Linked DNA regions of Homo sapiens. The protein of the gene in region 1 purifies or fractionates together with the protein of each later gene. This does not show direct contact. Each region holds a gene or a part of one and is shown in the gene's direction. Other genes may lie near its edges.

Evidence for each region.
Region 2: the proteins of DMTN (region 1) and NUP188 purify together in Homo sapiens (affinity purification with mass spectrometry, with the first as the bait; one large-scale study listed by BioGRID). This does not show direct contact.

The regions. Positions count from the first base shown.
Region 1 is NC_000008.11:22,055,268-22,059,670, forward strand, and holds the start of DMTN (dematin), read left to right. Parts: upstream 1-1,546; 5' UTR 1,547-1,869; intron 1,870-2,596; exon of another isoform or gene 2,597-2,698; intron 2,699-3,812; exon of another isoform or gene 3,813-4,229; intron 4,230-4,403. UniProt on the Homo sapiens protein: Membrane-cytoskeleton-associated protein with F-actin-binding activity that induces F-actin bundles formation and stabilization. Its F-actin-bundling activity is reversibly regulated upon its phosphorylation by the cAMP-dependent protein kinase A (PKA).
Region 2 is NC_000009.12:128,999,399-129,003,198, forward strand, and holds part of NUP188 (nucleoporin NUP188), read left to right. Parts: intron 1-225; coding exon 226-407; intron 408-2,130; coding exon 2,131-2,331; intron 2,332-2,485; coding exon 2,486-2,578; intron 2,579-3,418; coding exon 3,419-3,577; intron 3,578-3,800. UniProt on the Homo sapiens protein: Component of the nuclear pore complex (NPC), a complex required for the trafficking across the nuclear envelope. Required for proper protein transport into the nucleus.

The DNA.
Region 1 (4,403 bases):
AATACAGGGGAGGAACCCAGGTCGGGGTGCGGCGGGGATCAGGAATTCTAAAGGGCTGAGGTGTCAAAGCCCCAAGTACCTGGTCCGCTGGAGGGACCGAGAGAGATCATCTAGGGCTGGAGTGGGGCTGGGGCTTCCCCTCTGTCTCTCAGACTCTGATTAGAGGGAAGTAAGGGTGGGGTTGAAGGTACAGAAAGCCGAGAGGCTGGGCTGAGGCCGGGCTGGTTGTGGAGCGATGGCTGGAGTGGCTCCTCCTCCAAGGCTGTGCCCCTTTCTGCCACATTGAAGGTATGCCCCCTCCCACATCACTCTCCTGGCCTTTTTCTCTGCAGTTCCATGGATCTGATGCTTCATCCCCCACCCCCAGGTTTTCTCTACCTTCACAGCCACCCCCGCCTGGCTGCAGCAGCTCAGCCTGTGTTCTGTCTCCCTTCTCAGCCACCTGCCTCCTTCCTTCCTCCCTTCTCTCTGGAGCCCATCCCTCAGGTTACTGTCCTCTCTGTCCCCACCAGCCAGATACTTTCTGTCCCCTCCTGGCCTCTTCCCTCAAGCCCCTCCCCCTGTGCTTCTCCATTCAGACACCCCAGAGCCCCCTCCCCAGATTCTAGATTTCCCCAACAACAGCTGATACCATCAGCTGACCGGCTGGGGGCAGGGTTGCCAGGGCAACGGTGAGGGCTGCCTAGGTAGGCAAGTCTGCGGTGTGGAGGTGGAGAGGACATTGGGGCCAGGGCGAGGGTCGAGGGCAAGGCTTGTTGTCCTTCCCCATCCTGCCCAGGGGGCCCGAAAGGCCAATGAGAGGCTCCTGGGGTGGTTGAGGCTTTGCTAGAGACAGGGAAGGCACATGCCTGTAAATTCTGTGCTGGGACCCAGGGGTTACCAGGCAGGAAGCTCCTTTTTCATGAAGCCACCCTAGGGAGAGATGGGGTCCTTCTCTCTCTCTGCTGCATCCCATTGGAGTTCCCAGGGGATTCAGGTTACTGAGGGGCCAGCTCAAGTCTCAGTACTGAGGACCTGGTTGCATCCCTCCATTCTACCCTCCCAGGAGAGAGCTCATCCTTGGGTAACCAATTCTGGCCTGTGCCTGCACCCCCACCTCAAGAGGCTGGGCCCCAGAGGCCTCAGTTGCTGCTGTCAGATGGTGGGGTGGTCATGAATAGGGTAGGAGGTGCAGGTGCCTGGAGAAAGCAGGCATTGTCCGCCTGGGTCATCAGTAGCCCCCTCCCTCGACCCACCGCCCACAGCAACTTGAACTCTGGCTGTTTAGGAGGAGGCTGAGGGGCTCTGGGTGCGTGTGGGTGTGTGTGTGCGTGTGAGTGCTGCAGACTGCGGTGTGGGAAAGGGAGAGGACAGTGCTGGCTGATTCTGCTTTGTCATGACGCTGGGTTAATGCTCCTCTTGTTTGAAATGGATTGAGCTGCAGCGCTGGTGGAAGAGCGCGCACATCCACACACACACCCTTGCCAGCCACACGCTATCAGCTGGAAGTGGGGAGGGCGCGGGGAGGGCGTGGGGGAGCCAGCAGCCCGCCCGCCCTCCCGCCCCCAGACGAGGACTCCCCAGCACCGGGGGATCCAGGCGGCCGTGCGTTGCAGAGAAGCAGGGTGGGGGCAAGGAGGGTGGGGGCCCAGAGGGGAGATCAGACCGCTCAGCCGAGACCAGCTCCCCTCCTTCGCCAGCTCCCACCCCGCCCACCCACCCTAAGCCGGCATTTTTCCTGTTATTTGTGCTCCGGGGAAGCGCCGCGGGGTTCCTGGAAGAGACACCTATTACCTAGGCTCCTGGGGGAAGTGACAGCCCGTGGATCTGGCCTACGCCTCTCGGGCCTCTGTGGCCTCAGAGCGTCTGGGCCACACTGTCTGGGAAGAGGTAGGTGGCAGGGTCTCCGCCTCTCCTCCCCTCTGTGGGCACTCTGGGCCACAGCGCTTGCTGGCGAGCCAGGCTTTGGGTGGCAGCAGGGTATCTGGGGGGAGCCCACTGTGGGCCCTGTTCAGTGGGAGGATGGGCCGGCCCCTGGGACCAGCTGGGCCTGATCTAATGGAACCTTCTGATCTGGGGAAGAGGGCCTGGGGTGTTCTCATCCCAAGGATGAGAACTGCTCCCAGCCCAATCCCCTCTTTGCCAGCATCTCTGCCTGGCCTACCTAGCTGAGCAGGCCAGCAATGGAAGGGATGGACTGTGGGGGCACGGGGTGGGCAGGGGAGCATTCCCTCTCTGCTGAATACTGGCCCGCTGGCCTCCCCAAAACCACTCCACATGCTCTGGGGGTTGGAGCAGTACATTTAGGGGCCTGAGGCTGTTTGTTTGGAGCCTGCTTTTTAGGGGGAGTGGGAGGAGAGCCTGCCCCCAGCCAGTGGCTGGCCAGGCTGGGGTGGGGCTGAGTGAAGAGTGAGGCTGTGGCAGGGCGCAGCTGCAAGCCCAAGCCCAGTACTCCCCCTGTGCCCGCCGCTGGGGTGCTTGAAGGGGCCAGGGCTGAGCAGACATGCAGCCCCCACAGGGTTCTGGGGCTCCCCCTCCCTAGCTCTGTCCCTCAGGGCCTAGCAGGTCCAGCCCCCTTTCTTGGGCAGACACACCCAGTGTGTCCCTTCCAGGGACCAGTTGCCTGGTTGTGAGAGTCAGGGGAGCAGGGACAGGTCCAAGACAAGGAAGGCAGTTGGGCTGTGGGAATGGGGAGCCCAGGGAAGGCCTCCAGAGCTGGGTAAGTGGAGGGCTCTGTGTATGTTGCTGTACACGTGCACTACTCTGGGATGGATGCCAGGGAGAGGACCGGTGGGTGGGTGTGAGCGGGTGTTGGCAGCACCATGTGTCACAGTGAGGGGGCCTCGATGGGAGAGTGGGGGCATGAGCTGGCACACAGGGCTTCGGAGTCTCCCCGCGTGCATGCGTCCTGCAACGGTTTCAGCGCGGGCGCTTCTGCCTGTGCCCACCTGTCCATCTTGTGTCCGTGCTGCCGGCCTCTCTGTGGTCAGGCGTTAGACTCCTGGGTGAGGTTGTCCACCCGTGGGTGGATGTCTGCAGAATCCCTCTCCTAGAGCTCCTGGGTGTTGTGGGACTGGAACAGGGAGGCCCTGGGATCCAGAAAGCTGAATTGAGGCTGCATCTCCCCCAGCTCTGCCAGTCCCACTTGTACAACAGGACCAGCTATAAATGGAGGGGAAGCAGTCCGCCTGAGGGGGCTGCAGGATGCAGAAAGCAGAAAGCGGGGTCTCTTCAGAGGGTGGGTGGAGAGGGCACATAGAAACCAAACCAGAGAGAGACCTAGGAGAAGATGGCTGCACAGATGCGTCTCTGGGTGGGCTAGAGAGGCAGGAGGGGGCACCTGGGCCCGGTTTTGTTGTTATTGAGAGAACAAGGGAGGGCAGGCCTTGAGCAGGGGGACTCTGGGCTCCCCACCCACCCAGGCCTGGTCCTTTATCCGAGTATGAGAGGGTGCCCTGTAGTGCTGGGTTAGGGGAACCCTCATCCCAGCAGACACAACGGTAAAAAACATTGGAGTAGGGGAGAGGGAGAAAGTGGGAGAAGAGGAGGGAGTCCCCAGGCTCTGCCAGCCTTAGGACAGACTTGGAGTTCAGGCTTCGCCTAAGTAAGGGACACCTCTGATGAGCCACTGGCCCAGAGCAGGCCTCAGCCTCCTGGTGTCCTTTTCCAGTGGCGGGGGGGTGCGGGGAGCAAGGTGCCCTACCCCACCCACATCACACGCATGCACAGCACCCATGGGAGCGCCTGGCCCCTGCCCTGCAGCGCCGCACTGCTCCACCCTCCCTGCCCCTCCCCACCCAGGATGCTGTTTTGGGAACTGGTGACCTAGCTGGATTCTGCCTTTATTTCTGGCATTGAATTGTTGCCACAGTAACTGCGGGGGTGGGGCTGGGTAGGGGAGAGGGTGAAAGGGAAAGAGGGAGGGAGGGAGAAAAGATGAAGAAAGCCAAGAAAAGGGACCAGAAGAGAAAGCAGAAAGACAGGAGGAAGAAAGGGAGAGAGGGCCAGGCAGTCGCACTGTGAACAGAACAGGAGAAGGCGAAGCGGGGCAAAGTTCCCTGCCCACCGACGCCAGCCTGCTTGGATGACTTGCCTCGTTTCATAATTCACTTACTGTCTGCACCAGCCGGCCTCCAGCCTGGCTGGACCCTGCTGCCTGTGTGGCCCGGAGCCAGAGGCCCCCACACTCCCAGCTGCTCTTCTACAGATGCCATCAACGAGCAGGACTCTGGGTGGCTCCACTGTCTAAGGTTAGCACGTGGGACCCCCAAGTCCCACATTTTGATTGAACTGGGATCTTTGGTACTCATTGAAAAGAGCACTTGGCTTTGGCCTCAGGCAGGCCGGGGTAGGGATTCTGGCTTGGCTTCTATTTGGGGGGCCTTCGGCAAGTTCACCTCTCAGCTTCATTTTTGCTCATCTCT
Region 2 (3,800 bases), on another chromosome or scaffold:
GGCCACACATTTCTTCTGGGACTTTTGAGTTTCCAGTCATGGAATTCTTACCCCAAGAAAGCTATTTTTTTCCCTCATGTGTCTCTCCCTCCTCTCCCACTGGACAGATGCTGTCCCTCCTAGCGCCCTAGTACATCTCCAGCCCCTTCCTAGGAAGGAAACCTTGGTGTACAGTGAGAGTTGGCCTGGTGAGCATGACAGTGTCCCTCCCTGTCTATTCTACAGTAAGTGACATCCCCCAGTACTCCCAGCTGGTGCTGAATGTCTGTGAGACCCTCCAAGAGGAAGTGATTGCACTCTTCGACCAGACCCGCCACAGTCTGGCATTAGGCAGTGCCACAGAGGACAAGGACAGCATGGAGACTGACGACTGTTCTCGGTCCCGGCACAGGGACCAGCGTGATGGGGTGAGACAGTGCCCTAGAAGGCCATCCGTCCTTTCCACTGCCCGCCAGCTCTGTGCCTGACTCTGGGGATAAGTAGTGATCAAGACAGATAGTCGCTGCACTTCTGGAGTTCACGGCCTGGTGGGAAAGGTTAATAGATCAGACACTGCAGAAAAGCAGAAGCAGCCCATTGTACTGCAGGAGAGAAGTGCAGGGAGAACTTAGTCTCACTTCTGACTTGAACTGGGACTTAGGTGCCTTTTCAGCAATGACTTAGAGATTGTAGCCGCGGGCAAATGCAGGATCCGAAGTGAAATAGGAAATGATGTAAGGCTTTTAAGCAGGGGAAAAAGTTGATCTGATTTTTACTCTAGAAAGATCACTCTGGACTTAAACTCCAGGCCTCAAGCCATCCTCCCAGTTCAGCCTTCCAAAGTGTTGGGATTACAGGCGTGCCCAAGAAAGATCACTCTGGATGCAGTATTGAATAGTATTTTTCAAATTGTGGGATCATGACCTATTAGAGAGAGTCTTGAAATTAGCACATTTTGTTACAACCAGTCTCGCTCTGTCGCCCAGGGTGGAGTGCAGTGGTGCGATCTTGGCTCACTGCAAGCTCTGCTTCCCAGATTCACGCCATTCTCCCACCTCAGCCACCCGAGTAGCTGGGGCTACAGGTGTCTGCCACCACGCCCGGCTAACTTTTTGTATTTTTCATAGAGACGGGGTTTCACTGTGTTAGCCAGGATGGCCTCGATCTCCTGACCTCGTAATCCGCCCGCCTTGATCTCCCAAAGTGCTGGGATTACAGGCGTGAGCCACCACGCCTGGCCACAACCAGCATTTTTTTAAAATAAAGTAGAATAAAGTGTTTAAGAAAATATCACTGTGCTTTGTGTGACATTAGGGTAGGTATTATTAGTGAAAAACTGTAAACGTGTACATGAGGATACAGTCTAAAAAGTCTTTATGGGCCGGGCACGGTGGCTAACGCCTGTAATCCCAGCACTTTGGGAGGCCGAGGCGGGCAGATCATGAGGTCAGGAGATGGAGACCATCCTGGCTAACACGGTGAAACCCTGTCTCTATGAAAAATACAAAAAATTAGCCGGGCGTGGTGGCGGGCACCTGTAGTCCCAGCTACTCGGGAGGCTGAGGCAGGAGGATGGCGTGAACCCAGGAGCGGAGGTTGCAGTGAGCCGAGATCGCGCCGCTGCACTCCAGCCTGGGGGACAGAGCGAGGCTCCATCTCAAAAAAAATGTCTTTATGACTCTGGGTCATGGCCAAAAAGAAGGTTGAAAGGCCACTGGTACAAGGATAGATTAGAGAGGATGGAGCAGGATTATTTAGGAGATGGTTGCAGTAGCAGAGCAGGAGGTGGCATCGGGCAGGGTCGTAGGGGTCCCTCAGACTCCATGTGGCAGAGTTGGTTGGAGTGTCCAACATGAGACGAGGTGGCTCTGACAAGGGTGGTGGCAGTGTGGGAGGTGGGAGGGAAGAGGCGGGGGTAGCTCTGGTCAGTTTAGGGTTGCTCATTAGATTGGCTGGAGTTGCTGCTGTTCATTGAGAGCTGGACATAGGAGAGGGGCAGGGTGGGAGAGAGTGTGCATTCTGTGTTACTCAAGCTCACTTAGCAATGTGTGTAACCAAGCAGGTCTTGGGCAACCAGGCCCACCGCTGCCTGTCGTCCTCTTCCTCCTCCTCTTCTTCTTCCCCCTTTTACTCATCTTTGCCTCTGGGCAGGTGTGTGTCCTGGGCCTGCACCTGGCCAAGGAGCTGTGTGAGGTAGACGAGGATGGTGACTCCTGGCTGCAGGTAACCCGCAGGCTCCCCATCCTACCCACCCTCCTCACCACTCTAGAGGTGAGCCTTCGCATGAAGCAGAACCTGCATTTCACTGAGGCCACATTGCATCTGCTCCTCACCCTGGCTCGCACTCAGCAGGTAGGAGGCCAGCCCGAAGGCAGGAGGGAGCGTCCTTGCTTGCCTGGGTGGGTTCTGACAATCCCAGAAGCTGTGATCTAGCCTGAGAGCCCTACCTACCCTAGGCAGGGCAGGGGCAGGCTCCATCTCATTTCCTGTCTTTCCCTCCTCCCAGGGAGCCACAGCAGTGGCTGGAGCTGGCATCACCCAGAGCATTTGTTTGCCCCTTCTGAGTGTGTACCAGCTGAGCACCAACGGCACAGCACAGGTGAGTGTCAGGAGCTTGCCAGGAGGCCCAGCCTGACCACCCTACAGTTCCAGTTGAAAAGTGTCCTCCCCTACCTTTCCCCGGAAGTTGCTTTCCTCTAAATTGCCTAATACACTGATGGTGAGGAATCTTCCCTGCCCCCAGGCGGATCTCTAGCAAGAGAAACTCACCACTAAAAGGCACCGCCTGGCCTTTGTGCACTACCTCTGGGAGATGGGATGGATTCTTCCCATTGCAGGTGTGAGGAAGACTAAACCAGATTGATAACACATCCCTGGACCAGGCCTCTAGCCAAGGCAGCTGTCCTCTCCTGTCATTCCCAAAGACAGTGTGTCATTGTGACTTCTCCACCCCTGCACCACCAGACCAGGACTGGGAGAAGGGAAGTGGGTGGTCTGGGGGCTTGATGGGGCCTCAGCACCCTGCCCTCTGTGTCCCTTGGTTATTTCTAGTTTAACAGATACCTCCTAATTTCAAAAGAGTAGTCTTCACCTGAACCTCTCTCTCTCATGAGAGTCGTGAAGTATTTGGTCATCTAGCCCAGCTACCCCTTAGAGGAAGTATGTAGGGGCCAGAGCAGGGCAGTGACATGTCCAGGTTCGCATAGCTCGTCAGTGGCAGACCTGAGTCTGGAACCCTGGGTCTTGTGTCTCAGCCTGGTGCTCTTTCCTTGAATCTGCTGGTGTTGGCCCCTTTCTGGCCCTGGTGGCCAGACAGTGGCTGTGTCTATTCTGGGAGATCTTTTCCTTTCAGCGCAGCTGGGCTGCCTTAGTTGCTGTACTACAAGGAGGTCCTGCCTCTCAGCAGGGTTCCTGAGCTTGTCTGCTGTTTGTATCTTAGACACCTAGTGCCTCTCGGAAGTCCCTGGATGCCCCCTCTTGGCCAGGAGTCTACCGCCTGTCCATGTCCCTGATGGAGCAGCTGCTCAAAACTCTGCGCTACAACTTCCTGCCTGAGGCCCTGGACTTCGTGGGTGTCCACCAGGAGCGGACCTTACAGGTGAGGGGCTGCCTGCATTGCAGGGGTGGGAGTTTCAGGGTAAAAAAGGTACTGGGCCATTCATGGGGCAGGTGGGTGTGGAGCCTGGGCCTCAGTAGCGGAGGGTTGTCGATGCCTTCATTTTTGAGATGCTCTAAGTACTCTGCTGGCTCACTGGCCAGCTAGTCTGCTGAAGGACGGGAACGGTCTCGGGTCAGAATCCTGGTTGTACCACTAAGCCATT